4 separate regions of the Homo sapiens genome follow, and regions 1, 3 and 4 are each linked to region 2. The links come from fine-mapping of genetic effects on gene expression. A gene starts in region 2. Each other region holds a variant in brackets. All regions are shown on one strand. Distances are between the middles of the regions.

What was found. PIP is the estimated chance that this variant, and not a neighbour inherited with it, causes the effect.
Region 1: its variant is fine-mapped to the expression of PLAAT2 in kidney cortex (GTEx, PIP 0.99).
Region 3: its variant is fine-mapped to the expression of PLAAT2 in whole blood (INTERVAL, PIP 0.99).
Region 4: its variant is fine-mapped to the expression of PLAAT2 in rectum (CEDAR, PIP 0.95).

The regions. Positions count from the first base shown.
Region 1 is chr11:63,513,930-63,518,094 of GRCh38, reverse strand. LGALS12 (galectin 12) reads right to left here. Exons shown (of 9, transcript NM_033101.4): 8 at 2,382-2,532; 9 at 1,323-1,848. The coding sequence ends at 1,702. Among named protein-coding and RNA genes, the nearest start is that of LGALS12, 9.9 kb to the right of the region's middle. The variant G/C (reference allele first, on the strand shown) is at 2,347.
Region 2 is chr11:63,561,733-63,565,897 of GRCh38, reverse strand. It overlaps PLAAT2 (phospholipase A and acyltransferase 2), which reads left to right and starts at 2,519. Exons shown (of 4, transcript NM_017878.2): 1 at 2,519-2,582. The coding sequence starts at 2,574. RefSeq lists a silencer at 1,483-1,562.
Region 3 is chr11:63,695,519-63,699,683 of GRCh38, reverse strand. All of the region lies in intron 1 of RTN3 (reticulon 3), which reads right to left. Among named protein-coding and RNA genes, the nearest start is that of RTN3, 16 kb to the right of the region's middle. The variant T/A (reference allele first, on the strand shown) is at 2,370.
Region 4 is chr11:63,519,288-63,523,452 of GRCh38, reverse strand. It overlaps the pseudogene TMSB4XP5. Among named protein-coding and RNA genes, the nearest start is that of LGALS12, 15 kb to the right of the region's middle. The variant C/A (reference allele first, on the strand shown) is at 2,276.

The DNA.
Region 1 (4,165 bases), 48 kb after region 2:
GAGCTCTCTGGAGTCTCTTTTATTTTATTTATATATATATATTTTTTTTTTGAGACAGAGTCTGGCTCTGTCACACAGGCTGGAGTGCAGTGGTATGATGTTGGCTCAATGCAATCTCTGCCTCCCGGGTTCAAGCGATTCTCCTGCCTCAGCCTCCTGAGTAGCTGGGATTACGGGCGTGTGCCACCATGCGCAGCTAATTTTTGTGTTTTTAGTAGAAACGGGGTTTTGCCATGTTGGCCAGGCTGGTGTCGAACTCCTGACTTCAGGTGATCTGCCTGCCTTGGCCTCCCAAAGTGCTGGGATTACAGGCGTGAGCCACCTCGCCCGGCCTGGAGTCTCTTTTATAAGGGCACTAATCCCATTCATGAAGGCTCCACCTTCATGACCTAATCACCCTCCAAAGTCCCCACCTCCAAACACCATTTCCTTGGGTGCTAGGATTTCAACATATAAATTTTAGTTGGGAGGACACAAACATTCAGACCATGGCACATATATTACTGTATAATGTATACTATGCTATATATATGTATATATGGTATATATTATATACAGTTATATATAATTCTTAAATTATTTCTCATTTAATCTTGCTCTTTCCTTGGTGGTGGTCCTTCGTTTGTCTTGTCTGTACTTTTCGACTTGCAAGGTTCTTTGATTCCTCTCAAGCCTCCAGCTCCGATGTCCATCTTTATCTGGAAGCTCTAGTGTGCCTGTGTACTCTAGATAATGGTTTATGGTTAAGAGCCGCAAACTCTGCAGACAGAATCCCTGGGTTCTAATCCCATGACTTACTCACTGTGTGATCTTGGCAAATTAGCCTTTCTGTGCGTCAGTTTCTTATGTTATAAAATGAGGATATTAACAGCATCTACTTGTCTCAGAGACTGTGGCTATCCACCAAAATCCATTCTCCCTGTTTTTTATAGTAATAGAATAAAACTATTCTGTTATTTTATGACTACTCTATTTCATGTGGCTGGTCTTATGTGTCCCACTGAAGAACATTTCCAGCCTCCCTTGCAGGTAGTGTGACCGAGACTGAGTGCCTGCAGATGAAATGTGACTGTAGCTGGTGTGTGTCGGACCCATGTCTGGGGCTTATGATATCAGGTGGGTCTTGTCCACTGCCACTACTAGCCTTCTCAGTGGGTGAGGCCAAGATAGGGTGGCAGCTGAGCTTGGGCCACAGAGACAATGATGATGCCCTGGGGGTGGTGGAACAATGGCTAGGACAGACCCTGAATGTCTCCAGGGAGCAGAGCTGCCCTGCTAAGCTGGACCATTGTCTCTAGAATTGCTAGATGAGAACGAAATAAATAAATAACCTTATTTATTTATTTGACCACAAATAAATAAATAATAAAGAATAAATGACCACATTCTTTAAGCCATTGTATTTTGGAGTATCTTTGTTAGTCTACAACACTTGCCTCTGTGAGTGCAGTCCAGGCCCTGAAGGCAGATGGAGCCATATCCCAGGCTCCTGGTGGAGGAAGGTGCAGAGTTCGAGGAACCTTTGCACTCTTGTGCCTTCCCTCAGGCCCAAAGCTCCTGTAGACTCAGTCTCGTGACCCCAGAGGTGAACCAGGCCTGATGTGCTGGTGTCAGGTGGATGGTTTAATGAGGGGAGGAGAGTGGGGCCCTGGGAGTGGGCTGACCTTCTTGTTTTCTGGCGGTATTTCCCTGGAACCATCCTCAGGAGTGGACACAGTAGAGCTGGACACTTCCACTGATCCGGAGCTCCCGCAGCTGCTCCAGGGCCTGCTGGTTCATGCTGGTGGCCCCCAGCCCCTGCCCATTGAGCGCCAGCTTCAGCCCTCCCTCCTGGAACAGGAGCAGCACCTGGGAAAGGAGGACATGAGGGGGTTGCAGCTTCCAGCCAGACTTTCCCTTGTCTGCCTGACGCTCTCTCCAGTGAGACCCTCCTCCTCTCATAGGACACGAAGACTGGACCCAGGGGGCACCCAGTACAGTGCTGGAAAAGAACAGGATAAGGGGCCCGGCTTGTCACCAGCCCACTGTGGTCTTTGACAAGGATCTTCCCAGCCTTGGGCCTCAGTTTCACCACCTGTAACTGGGGCTGCTTCCTGTAGAGGAGTGGTTCTGCACGTCGGAATCATTAGGGGAGCTTTTTAATAAAGCTGATGCCTGGGCCCCCCCCCACCTGCATCAATTGAGTTTCTGGCCATGGGATCCCTGGCATCAGAGTGGAGCGTTGAGGACTGCTGTACAGACATTCGCTGTGCTCTGCTGGCTCTGGCCTCCCACCCCATAACATCTGTCCTGCACACCTGCCCCAGCATCTCCCAGGTCATTATGGGACTTCAGCTCTGTGCTCCA[G/C]CCTGAAGGGATGTAATCATTTGGCTCTGACCTACCTCAAAGAATCTCTGGGGGTAAAAGAGGAAGGGGGCTGAGATCAGTTTCTTCTGCCCCCAGCGGGAGATCCAGGCCAGAGTTCTGTCTGCGAAGGAGGCCCTGAGTGTCACAGGAGCATGGGCAGCCTGGTCCCTCAGGCTCACAGTAAAACTGCAGGAAGCAGGAGGAAGGAGAAGGAATCAGCGCCCATTGCCCATAGGCCGCTGCTCAGCCCCCAGGGGAAGGATGGAGGTCAGGGAGTGGATGGAAGGTTGAGCTGCTTCAGCCTCCAGAAACAAGCACTGAGGGCCTATGACAGCCTCATGGCTGAATGCTCAGAACAGTGGAAAGAACACGAGTTCTAGATGAACTTGAGATTGACCTCCAGGGTTGCCATCTATGACTACAGGAGGATGGGGGTGGGAGGGAAGTGTGTGAAAATTGCCTAGCCTGAGCTTCAGTTTCTCCTCCTGAAAATGGGGATGATTATGATGATGATAGCTACAGCTAACATTTATTGAATGCTAACTAAGTGCCAGGTATTATCTTAAATGTTTTCCAAACAGCATAGTGGTTAGAGTCAGGCAGTCCCGATTCAACCCTGGCTCTGCTACTTTCTAGTCCTGTGACCTTGGGCAAGACTCTTAATCTCTCTGTGCCTCAGTTTCCTCATCTGTAATGTGACGATAACATAACTGCCCTGTACCTGCCTGTGGCATTGTTGTAAGAATTAAATGAATACATAAAAAAATGCTTATTTAGAATAGCACCTGGAACGTAATAAGCATTCAGATGATACCTATTGTTTAAAAATATTGCTATATAATACAATCTCTACCTCATAGAGCCAAAAAAAAAAAGGAACAAAGGAGATAATGTATGTGAAAACTAGCAATTCCTAGCACACAGTAGGTGTTTTACAGAAGCTAGTTTGCCTTTCCTTAATCCTCACAAATTCTGTGCTGTGAGGTTTGTCAGCCCATTTAAGTGATGAGGACAAGAAGTTAAATGACTTCTCTGTTACTAGTAATAGTGGTAGGGCCTTAGGTTAGGATGTGAACTAGGATTCATGACTCTAGATTTGGGGGTGGGGGGATCTGGCACCTGCCTCTCAAATAGGGCAACCGGATTATATTATTTTTCTTTATTTTATTTTATTTTTTTGAGACAGAGTCTTGCTCTGTCACCAAGCTGGAGTGCAGTGGCACGATCTCGGCTCACTGCAACCTCTTCCTCCCAGGTTCAAGCAGTTCTCCTGCCTCAGCCTCCGGAGTAGCTGGGACTACAGGCGCATGCCCGCACCGCCCAGCTAATTTTTGTATTTTTAGTAGAGATGGGGTTTCACTATGTTGGCCAGGGTGGTCTCGATCTCTTGACCTTGTGATCTGCCCACCTTGGCCTCCCAAAGTGCTGGGATTACAGGCTTGAGCCACCGCGCCCGGCCCAGATTATTTTTATGTCTTGGGAACTTCCCAAGTTTCCTTCTTGAAGAGCTATGCTGGAGAAGGCGCGGCATCCTGATGGGATGCAGAGGCAGGTAAGGTAGGGGAAAAGGCCGCCCTGGACAGGCCTTTCAAGGGCTATTGGTAGATCCTTACAGGAGGAGGCCCCGTAAGTTTCCAACTTTGGGAAGGAGGTGGCCAGGGCCCAATGTTGGGAAGAAGCTTGGAAGGCAGGAACCCTGGAGAGTGGACTGCGTGGAGCCTCCAGCCCCACTATGGCTCCCCCTACCCCGTCCTGCCAGACAACACTGTGTCTTCCTCTGGCCTGCGAACTCCTGGTGAGGAGGCCTCAGTGTCTCCCT
Region 2 (4,165 bases):
TTGACACAACAAATTAACCACCACGGCTGCTATGAACATCTGTGGACAGGTTTTTGTGGGACACAGGGCTTATTTAAGAAATTGGTTATTTTCTATTTCTTCAACTAGGTTTATTGGTACCTGTTTTGTTATTATTTCTAGTGTTTTATACTTATGTTGCAATTATTCTTCTATATGGATATAAGATTTAATAAAATCCTTTATTTATTTATTTATTTATTTCTGAGACATAGTCTCACTCTGTAACCCAGGCTGGAGGGCAGTGGCGTGATCTTGGCTCACTGCAACCTCTGCATCCCAGGTTCAATAGATTCTCCTGCCTCAGCTTCCCGAGCAGCTGGACTACAGGCGTGCGCCACCAAGCCCAGCTAATTTTTGTATTTTTAGTAGAGACGGGGTTTTGCCATGTTGGCTAGGCTGGTCTCGAACTTCTGACCCAAGTGATTCACCCACCTTGGCCTCCAAAAGTGCTGGGATTACAGGCATCAGCCACTGTGCCCGGCCAAAGCCCATTAAAATTATATGTAGCCCAAGATATTCCTGGCATGTACATAGAAAGATAACATTGCCTCTAGAAAGGGGAACTGGGTTGCTGGAGGCTGGAGGCTGGAGGTGGGGAGAATGGAGGCTTATCTTTCCTTTTATAGCCTTTTATACAATTAAACAAACATAGAGAGCGTGCATGTGAACAAAAATGTAAGTATTCCAGGCTGTAGGCCTAGAGCTTACCAGCAGGCTGGGTGTGGCCTGCCCTACCCTGTTCTCTGTCAGTAGAACTTTGTCACCTTTCCTGCTCAGCATGAACAGTAGGGAGACAGCAGAATTCTCATTCCACTGGCCCTTGATTTGCAGACTCTCCTTTCCTATAGCTCCTGGACATAATTTCCTGACACTCTGAACAGCTTGGATTCGGTGAAAAGCCACAAGCCCCAGCATGAGTACAGTGATGTTCCTCCCCAACTCCGCCCTGCATGGTCTGGTTGGTCATTGTGCCAACCCACCTGAGATCCTTTCAGCAGACAGCACGTGGAAGTCCTCCTGCCCCAGGAAACAGGGGTGTGATGTGGTTGCAAGGGGAGGGCAGGCATAGGAAGAACTGAGATTGCTGGACTGGAGGTCAGCCCCTAAAAAGATGATCAGCAAGCCTGAGTGGGACCGGCCCAGAGGTCTCTGGACAATGGGGCAGGAGATAATTAGCCAAGCCAACCCTACTGTCTCCCTCCAGAAGGAATACTTTGAAGATTGTCCCACTGCAACTCAGAGGAGAATGGAGTGGAGGTGCTGAGAGAGGCCGTCTCCATGGGAGCAAGACCACATGACCACGTGAGCTGAGGGAGTAGCTGGTCATGCAGAACTGCTGTGGCTCCCAAAGAGTTTTCCAGTTCTGGCTCCAGTCCATCTGCATCCCCACACTAAAGCTCTTTGTTTGTTTGTTTGTTTATAGCCTGAAGAGGGTAAGTTATTGGTCCTCGCCCCCATGCCCCACAGTGAGGATGCTCAGCTCCCCCCAGCCCCACCCACCCCTTCCTGTCCAGTTTGCTCAGGACCGGACAACTATATGTAGATGACAGAAGAGATACTTATTTGGAGCTTGGGTGAGATAAGCATGCAGGTGCCTCAAAGAAGCAACCTCTACACACCCAGTACTGGGTTTTGGTTTCCATTTGGTGTGGAATGAGTGTTTCTGAACTGTGGGTGAGAGGCAGAAAGGGGAGTGGTTTCTATACTGCTGTCCAAGCAGGCTCACTCTGTTTCCAGGGTAGAGGAATGTGCCTCCAATAATACGATTTTTCTAGGGCCATGGGGTTTGAGGTTGGTGGAAATGTTTGCCTGTCCCGGCAACCATCATTCCCAATTTGGAGGCATGAATCTCAGTCTCTCTGGGGCTCCTCTCTCCTTTTTGAAATTTTCCCCCATGGTCTCTGTCTCTATATCCTCCCTTGCCCCCACAACCACTGGATCTTGCTTGTTCCACCTGAAACTTGGTGATTGTCAGCTGTGCCCCTGACCACACTGCCACTAAGTCCTTCTCAATCTATATCCTGAGCTCTGATTCCTCTTCTGTCTGGCTGATTTTCATGCCGCCTTGCCTACTTGATATGTGCTCTGCCCCTGTTTGAAGACAGGGAAAATTTTACATGAACCTTGATCTATGTTCTGTTTTTTTTTTTTTTTTTTTTTTGACTGAGTCTCGCCCTGCCGCCCAGGCTAGAGTGCAGTGGCACGACCTCTGCTCGCTGCAAGGTCTGCCTACTGGGTTGACGCCATTTCCTGCCTCGGCCTCTGGAGTAGCTGGGACTACAGGTGCCCACCACCATGCCCAGCTAATTTTTTCTATTTTTTAGGAGAGACGGGGTTTCACCGTGTTAGTCAGGATGGTCTCGATCTCCTGACCTTGTGATCCTCCCGCCTCAGCCTCTCAAAGTGCTGGGATTACAGGTGTGAGCCACCGCACCCAGCCTATGTTCTGAAATAGTTGTATATGGGCTGGGTCACAGGGAAAGTGAAACTCAGAGCTAATTTAAGGCTGGACACAGAGTCAGCAACACACAAGACATCATCTTGAAGGAAGGATGGCTTTGGTAAGTCCCCAGAAACGGTTTTAAAGCTTTGATTTGAGGAACAACCACCCTATTAGTGATGATTATGTGTATTCTTGTTGGTCTACAGCTCTGGCATGGAGGGCACATGGGCACATGCTGAGTTCTGGGGGTCTGGCTCTCTCAGACACTGTGGGAAGGAACCACGGTGCTGGGTTATGACCCTGGAGGCTCCCCAGCCTCAGCTGCCGCATGGGGTCTGGTTCTACTGTGGCCAAAGTTTGCGTTTATGCTTTTCCAAGCCCTCCTCTGGCCAAACTACCAGTGGCTCTGCTAAGCCTCCTGAAGGCAGGAATGGTGGGCTCAGGGAGAGCAGCCCTTGGTTTACCCCACAGGCCGCCTCCTCTGTCACATCATCCTCAGTGGGAGGGATTAGCTGGGGAGGGAGGGTCCAGGGAAAGGGCTCCAGCTGTGTGGGTGGCAATGGGGGCTGTCAGAAAGGGCTCTGTCTCCCTCGCCTCCAGGCAGGGCCAGTCCCTCTACTTTCCCTCCTTCCCTCCAATTCCTTCTTAGTTTCCTTCTTCCTTTAGACCCAATAGCAGCCACATTTCCCAAGTGCTCAGGGGTCCAGACACCATGCTAAACACTTCTTTTATTTAATCCACACCAGGTAGTTAATAAGCAATCCTATGAAGTAGGCATAATTACTGCCAACTTCATGGATAGGAGGAATGATATACTGGTAAGTATAGAGAGGGGGCTGCCCAAAAGTCAGAGAGGGAATTCGAACTTAGGAGGCTCTGACTCTAAAGCTTCGACTTAAAAAAGAAAGAATGTATTTAATTCCAGGAGAAATACGTGAACACATTCACTTTGTCTGAAAAACCGAAACTCTAGCCTGGGCAACATAGTGAGATCCCATCCCTACAAAAAATATTAAAATTAGCCAAGGATAATGGTATGTGCTTATAGTCCTAGCTTCTTGGGAGGCTGAGGTGGGAGGATCACTTGAGCTGGGGAGGCTGAGGCTTCCTGCAGTGAGCTGTGATAGTGCCACTGCACTCCAGCCTGGGTGACAAAATGAGATCATGTCTCAAAAAAAGCCAAAAGCCAAAAACCAAAACTATTAGCATAAAAACTAATGTCCCCTTTGACCATCCTTCCCATCTGTACAGCCTTTCCCCTCTGTACAACCTGGTGCGTATTCTTCCAAATATTTTTCTGTTTTTGCATACATATATGGCTACCTTACAAGTATTGGTTTGTAGCTTTGGGGTTTGTTGTAGTTTTAAATTGCATTCCGTGAGGACAATTCAGTTAGGAAATGCTTGAATCTTTTCCTTTATTTACCAGCTTTTGGAATAATAGGGTGATTCTTTTCCATCCTCCAAAGATGCCTAGTGTTTTTAAAAAATATCCTTATGAACACGTGGGTTTTAACATATTTGATGTGTTTCAGTTTGTGTACAGTTATTTTTATTATTTTTTTTTGATGCTCAAATTGTCCCTTATTTGGTCAAGTTGACTCTTGACCCCTCTAGTCAAAGGCTTTACTTTTTTTTAAATTTCGAGGTTCTGGGGGGGAACATGTGGTATTTGGTTACATAAATTAGTTTTTAGTGGTG
Region 3 (4,165 bases), 130 kb before region 2:
GGCATTCTGGGGAGAAGGAACAATTGGCCAGATTCCAAATGGCTTTAAATGCCATGTAATCTGGATTATATCCTTTGTGTAATAAGGAATCACTGAAGGTTTTTAAGTAAGGGTGTGACAATATCACGTGTTTTAGAAAGAACTCTGGCAGCAGGGTAGAGCATGGACGGAACTGAAAAGCTACTGCATAATCTTGGCAAGAGATAAGGGCTCGCACTAAGGCAGTGAGGATGGGAATGAGAGGACTGCTGACAAGAGAGAAGACAGGTCTTGAGACCATCTGCCTGGATGTTAAAGACTGGAGAAGTAAAAGATCACTGAGGGACTAAATGAAATGCCATGGTTGGGAACACAGAAGGAATTCTTTTTTTTTTTTTTGAGAAGGAGTCTCAGCTCTGTCGCCCGCCCAGGCTGGAGTACAGTGGTGTGATTTCAGCTCACTGCAACCTCCGCCTCCCAGGTTCAAGTGATTCTCATGCCTCAGCCTGCTGAGTAGCTGGGATTACAGGTGCATGCTACCACACACGGCTAATTTTTGTATTTTTAGTAGGGGTTTTGTATTTTTAGTGGGGTTTCACCATGCTGGCAGGCTGGTCTCAAACTCCTGACCTAAAGTGACCCGCCCACCTTGGCCTCCCAAAGTGTTCGGATTACAGGCGTGAGCCACTGTGCCCGGCCAGGAATCCCTTATATTATTAACTTTCAATATAAAAAAGTTGCCTAAGGCATATATAAGTGGCAACTGTTGAACAGGCAGTGCAGTAATAGGGACAGGCTCAGGAGAGAGGTAAATGCTGTAGATAAATATCTGGGAATTAACATTTGGGTGAGAACTGACACCACTGCAGTGAATACCTTCATCCAGGAAGAAATACAGAAGTTTTACAAAAGAATCTTGAGGTATCTCAATATTTAAAGGGGCCAGTGGTAGGAGCTCGGGAGCAGGTGCTGGCAGTCAGTCGGAACAACCTCTCCCAGCCTTGCCTCATGTACAAGACAGTATCTGGAGTCAATGGTTCCTCAGTGATCTTAGATCATGTTAAGTTTCCCAGGTATGCTGAGATTGGCCACTTGATCTTACCAGATGGCATGAAGAGAAATTTTAAAATATGTGTATTTAAAGGGGATCAAGAAAGAAAGACCAGTGAAGAAAACAGAAAGAAGTCAAGAAAGGAAAAAATGGTGCCATTTGGAGAATGCTTTAGAGAATGGTTAAGAGTCAAAGCCATTGAATGGCTAAATTAAGACTATGAAAAACAATCAGACGCAGTAGCTGATGCCTGTAATCCCAGCACTTTGGGAGGCCAAAGCAGGTGGATGGCTTGACCTCAGCAGTTTGAGACCAGCCTGGGCAACATGGTGAAATCCCATCTCTACAAAAAAATACAAAAATTAACCAGGCATGCTGGCTTGCTCCTGTAGTCCCAGCTACTTGGGGGGACTGAGCTGAAAGGATCACTTGAGCCCAGGAAGCGGAGGTGGCAGTGAGCTGAGATTGAGCCATGGCACCTGGGCAAGAGTGAGACACTGTTTTAAAGAAAAAAAAAAAAAGACTATGAAAAGGGTCACAGAAATTAATTTCGCATTGATGACTAAAATGAGAGTGGTAGAGGGGGAGGGAACAGACACTGAAGACTGAGGAGTGAAGGTAAGTTTAAAAAACACTGAAAACAAAAAGTATGGGAAATACGGGTGATAAAGGGAAGAACTAAAAACTGGGCAGCAGCTATAGGGAGAGGCAACGTTGAGGGAAAGTTTTTTAGAAATGAAAATGACAAGTATATTTACAGAAAGACAGAAAGGAGCCAATGAAGAAAAAAGTCTGAAAATACATAAAAAAGAAACAATTTTTTCTGGAACAAAGCCCACAAAATTGCTAGAAGATATGGGATTGAAAAAGCACAGGTGGGCCGGGCGCGGTGGCTCTCGCCTGTAATGCCAGCACTTTGGGAGGCCAAGGCGGGCAGGTCACCTGAGGGAAGGAGTTCAAGAACAGCCTGGCCAACATAGTGAAACCCTGTCTCTACTAAAAATACAAAAATTAGCCAGGCGTGGTGGCAGGTGCCCATAATCCCAGCTACTCGGGAGGCCAAGGTAGGAGAACTGCTTGAACCCAGGAGGCAGAGGTTGCAGTGAGCCAGTATCGCACCATTGCACTCCAGCCTGGGGGATAAGAGTGAAACTTCGTCTCAAAATAATAATAATAATAATAATGAGCTGGGTGTGGTGGCACATATCCCAGCTACTTGACTTGGGAGGCTGAGGCAGGAGAATTGCTTGAATCTGGGACACGGAGGTTGCAGTGAGCTGAGATGGAACCACTGCACCCCAGCCTGGGCGACAGAGTGAGGCTCTATCTCAAAAAAAAA[T/A]AAAAATAAAAAAAAAGCATAAGTGGACCTGCTGAAAATCTAATTCCAATAAATAACCAGTGCAAATATGTGGCTATAAGATTATTCATCACGATATTCTTATTTTTAAAATTTTCTTAAAATAGCAACGGGGCCGGGCGCGATGGCTCACGCCTGTAATCCCAGCACTTTGGGAGGCCGAGGCGGACAGATCACGAGGTCAGGAGATCAAGACCACCTTGGCTAACATGGTGAAACCCCATCTCTACTAAAAATACAAAAAATTAGTCGGGTATGGTGGCAGGCGTCTGTAGTCCCAGCTACTCAGGAGGCTGAGGCAGGAGAATGGCGTGAACCCGGGAGGCGGAGTTTGCCGTGAGCCAAGATCACGCCACTGCACTCCAGCCTGGGCGACAGAGCAAGACTCCATCTCAAAAAAAAAAAAAAAAAAAAAGAAAGAAAGAAAGAAAGAAAGAAAATAGCAACAGGGGCCAGGTGTGGTGGCTCAAGCCTGTAATCCCAGCACTTTGGGAGGCCAAGGAGGGTGGATCACCTGAGGTCAGGAGTTCGAGACCAGCCTGGCCAACCATGGTGAAACCCTGTCTCTACTAAAAATACAAAAATTAGCTGGGTGTGGAGGCAGGCACCTGTAATCCCAGCTACTCGGGAGGCTGAGGCAGGAGAATTGCTTGAACCCGGGAGGTGGAGGTTGCAGTGAGCCAAGATGGCACCACTGTACTCCAACGTGGGCAACAGAGCAAGACTCCGTCTCCAAAAAAAAAAAAAAAAAAATAGTGACAGGGCCCCACTATGTTATCCAAGCTGGTCTTGAACTCCTGGGCTCAAGCCATCCTCCTACCTTAGCCTCCCGAAGTGCTGGGATTACAGGCGTGAGCCACCGCACCTGGCTTCATCACAATATTCTTTTTTTTTCCTTTTGAGACAGAGTCTTGTTTTGTTGCCCAGGCTGGAGTGCAGTGGTGTGATCTCGGCTCACTGCAACCTCCACCTCCCAGGTTCAAGTGATTCTCCTGCCTCAGCCTCCTGAGTAGCTGGGATTACAGGTACGCACCATCACGTCTGGCTAATTTTTCTATTTTTAGTAGAGACGGGGTTTCACCATGTTGCTCCTGACCTCAAGATCTGTCCGCCTAAGCCTCCCAAAGTGCTAGGATTACAGGCATGAGCCACCAGGCCCGGCCTCATCACAATATTCCTTAAAATAGGTTTTTTTTTTTTTTTTAAAGGAAACTTAACAAAGGTCTAATAATTAGACCGTTTAAGTTTCATATATCCAAACAATAGGATAAGTCATTAACAACTGGGTTGTAGATGGGAATTTATTGACACTAAGAGATGTTCATCGTATTCTAATAAAAAAGAATATTACAAAGGTAATTTTTACTTACTATTTATTATTTTTTAGAGAAGTAAGGTCTCACTCTGTCCTTCTTTCTTGATCCCCTTTAATTTTTCCCTAACGCCCCTTTTCTCTTCCCAAGATCCTATCCAGGATACCATATCACATTTTGTCATCATGTCTCCTTAGCCTTTTCTGGACTGTCAGCTTCTCAGACTTCTCTTGACAGTTTTAATAAGACTCTGGTCAGATATTTTACAGAATGTCCCTCAATTTGAATTTGTCAGATGTTTTTCTCATGGTTAGACTGGAGTGATGGCTTTTCGGGAAGAATACCAAGGGCCATGCTCATCACAGCATATCAAGAGTACAGACTATCAACATGACTTATCAACTGATGATGTTAACCTGATCCCTGGCTGAGGTAGTGCTTGCCAGGATTCTCCACCTGGTTGGA
Region 4 (4,165 bases), 42 kb after region 2:
GGTGGAAAAAGGGGTCAGAGTAGGCTTGCAAGACTGCATTCCCTAGATCTCCCAGTAGATAACCTCAAGGAACTTGGTGCCAGGAAGCGATTGCCCTCAGCAAACATTGTGTCGGCAGGAGCAGTCGTGAGTTTGCTCACATCCTGCATTTATGATAAACAGTTTGCTGTTTGATCATATAGCCTCCAGTGGAATGCTGAGTTGGTCACATCCCACGGGTCTTCGGCTCCCTATAATTTATATCATGGAAGAGAGAAGAGAAAATATATTCAGGAAACAAGAACAGGAGGCTATAAAAAAAGAAATATTTAGCTGGGCATGGTGGCTCATGACTGGAATCTTAGCACTGTGGGAGCCTGAGGCAGGTGGATCACTTGAGGTCAGGAGTTTGAGACCAGCCTGGCTAACATAGCGATACCTCATCTCTACTAAAAATACAAAAATTAGCCAGGAGTGGTGGAGCACACCTGTAATTCCAGCTACTCAGGAGGCTGAGGCATAAGAATCACTTGAACCTGGGAGGTGGAGGCTGCAGTGAGCTGAGATTGCGCCACTGCATTCCAGCCTGGGTGACAGAGTTGAGACTCTCTCAAGAAAATATATATAAATAAAATTAAATTAAATTAAAAAAGAAACATTTAGGGAATAAGATAGTAGTTTTGGTTTTCTTGCTGAAAAATTGAAACTGAATCTGATCAAAACTCTAGATGAAAAGAAGTACAGGAGACAGTGGAGTATTTTAAACAATGCCCTAGGGATTAACCAGCAGAATTCAGACTCTGAGAAGCTCTATAAGGAAAAGTTATCAGTTTTATCCCCAACAATAAAATGTAAGAAAAAAAGAAAGGAAGATGGAATCTATGGATTAAAGACCTAGAGTACATATAAACAATTGATGACCTTGCACAGAAAAGAGACAATCCAGAATCTAAGGCTATGATAGTATTGATGGATGGATAAGTAAAATTATAAGCTAATTTATGAACTTAATGCAAGAACAGTAGTATCAGTAAATGAAATGCAGCAATGTATTCATTAAAAATTCATTTACTCCAGGAATTTAAGGAATTTAAAGATACTTATAGCATGAAATTAGAAAGCCTATTAATGTAATTTACCTCATTAACAGATTAGAAAAAATATGATCATATCAGTAAACGCAGAAGACAGACTTGACACTCACTCATGAAAAAAATGAAAGTGTATCTTAACAAACTAAGAAAAAATGAAAATCTCTTTACCCTAAAAATAGTATCTATTCCCAACCTATGATAATCATCATATTTAATAGTGAAATCTTAATTGCATTTCCCTGTGGTCAGGAACAGGTCAAGGATGCCTGCTAACCACACTGCTACTCAACAGTGTGCAAGAATTCTTGGCCAATGTCATATAATAAAGGAAGCATGAGGGAGAGAGGAAGGAAGCGAGGGAATGTGGTTGGGAGTGGGGGGAAGAGTGAGAGACAGAGAGGGAGAGGGAGATTGGAAAGGAAGAAATCAGAAATCATTATTTTTTGCAAGTGGTAAGATTACCTATCTGTTTGTTTGTTTATTTATTGAGACAGAGTCTTGCTCTGTCCCCCAGCCTGGAGTGCAGTGGTGTGATCTCGGCTCACTGCAACCTCTGCCTCCTGGGTTCAACAGATTTTTGTGCCTCAGCTTCCTGAGTAGGCAGGATTACAGGCATGTGCCACCATGCCCAGCTAATTTTTTGTATTTTTAGTAGAGACGGAGTTTCGCCATGTTGGCAAGGCTGGTTTCAAACTCCTGACCTCAAGCGATCCACCTGCCTCGGCCTCCCCAAGCGCTGGGATTACAGGTGTAAGCCACTGTGCCAGGGCAAGATTGTCTATTTGAACTAATAAAATATATATAATTTTAGCAAGTTTGCTAGGAACGAGATTAATATACATAAATCAGGTGCATTTTTGTACCAGTATCAAGTAAGTACAATTTTTTAAAAAGATAGCATTTACAAATCACACACAAAGCTATAAAGTGCCTAAGTATAAATCTAACAAAAGTTGTGCGATGCCCCAGTAAAAACAAACACACACATCTTATGTTACCAGAGCAACCCTGGAGACATAGCTGAGAAAGCTTGTTATTTTCTTAAACAGTAGATAACTAAGAAAGCTCATTGTTCTTCCTTAAACAGGTTTTTAAATCATTTTACCTACAGGTATGTTTGCTTAAGAGAACTTCAGATGGCCCAGGAGGCTGCTGGAGCCTCAGGACTCTTTGGCAATTACTAGAGGAAGATAAGGTCAGAG[C/A]AAGACCCCAGCAAACTGAGCTGGTGATGCCTTGTTACCTTCAGATCATTAACGTATCATTATAATGCTAAAGTCCTGTATTAGGCCACGCAGCTGATAAAGACATATCTGAGACTAGGCAATTTACAAAATAAAGAGGTTTAATTGGACTAATAGTTCCACATGGCTGGGGAAGCCTCACAATCATGGTGGAAGGCAAAGAGGAACAAGTCACATCTTACATGGATGGCAGAGGCAAAGAGATAAGTCGAAACTGAAGAAGACAGAAGTGCAAGAGAAAAATCCACTGCCTTCCAAAGAAATGATTGAACAGGAGAAGCAAGCTGGTGAATCGTAATGAGGCATGTGCTGCCAATATGCACTGTACATTCCACAAGCATTGCTTTCTTATTTTACTTATTTTAGCTGTTTAACTTTGTAAGATGCATAGAGGTTGGATCAAGTTTAAATGACTCTGCTGCCCCTTTCACACCAAAGAACTACTGACAATGAAGGCCAAGCCTGCCACTCCCATCTGACTTTCTGGCTGGCAGAAAAGGAAAGAACGTGCATGTTGGTGAAGGAAGAAGTGGGGTGGAAAAAGTGGGGTGGGACAACAATGAAATCTAGAGTAAAACCAAGCTGGCCCAAGGTGTCATGCAGCCTGTAATACTGTTTAATCAGAGTGCCATTTTTTTTTTGTTCAAATGATTTTAAGTATTGGAATGCAAAATTTTCAAAAATATGCAAATAGAAGTTTAAAAACTTTTTTAAAAAAAGGGGGGGACTCCTCTTTTTAAAACCATCAGATCTCAGGAGACTTATTCATTATCACGAGAACAGCCTGGGAAAGGCTTGCCCCCATGATTCAATTACCTCCCACTGCGTCCCTCCCACAACACATGGGAATTCAAGATGAGATTTGGGTGGGGACATAGCCAAACCATATCAAATCCCCACCCCTAGAAGAAAATTGCTGCCATTTTCTGAACATACCTCATATGAAGAAGCATGTTTATGATCTGTAACTGCACATCTGGAGTTCCTCCCTGTACATGCTTACATACATACCTCCCCGCCCCACATCTAATTCCTTAAAGTTCCCTGGATTCCATCACCTTCGGAAGGGGTTCTTTAGAAAAAGAGCTCACTCCTCCGTTCCTGACCAGCAATAAAATCTGCTTGCCTTTTTTTCCAATTGGATATTCTTTCTTGGCTATCAATACAAAGTAAGGAAAGAACTTGGTTTCCCAGTGACAGAAGGAAATAAAGGATGACCAAAATAAATTGAGGGATATACTGTATATATGATTGGGAAGAAGCAATGTAGAGATGCAAGCTCCTCTGTGCCCCTAAAAATCTATACACAGAATACATTTTAATAAAAATATCCTATAAAACATTTGTGGAAATTGAGGTTTATCTTCTTTTAAAAAATAATTTCAACTTTTATTTTAGATTCAGAGAGTACCTGTGCAGGTTTGTATATTGTGTAAAGCTGAGGTTTGGGGTGTGAATTATCCCGTCACTCAGGTAGTGAGCATAATACCCAATGGTTTTTCAACCCTTTCTCCCATTCCTTCCTTCTTTTCTCCCTCCAGTCTAGTAGTCCCCAGAGTCTATTGCCATCTCTTTGTCCATGACCACCCAATGTTTAGCTCCTACTTATAAGTGAGAATATATGGTATTTGGTTTTCTGTTCTTCTGTTAATTCACTAAGGATAATGGCCTCCAGCTGCATCTATGTTGCTGCAAAGGACATAGTTTCATTCTTTTTTATGACTGTGTAGTAATCCATGGTGTATATGCACCACATTTTCTTCATCCAATCCTCTGTTGACAGGCACCTAGGTTGATTCCATGTCTTTGCTATTGTGAATAGTGCTGCAATTAACATACAAGTCCGGCTGG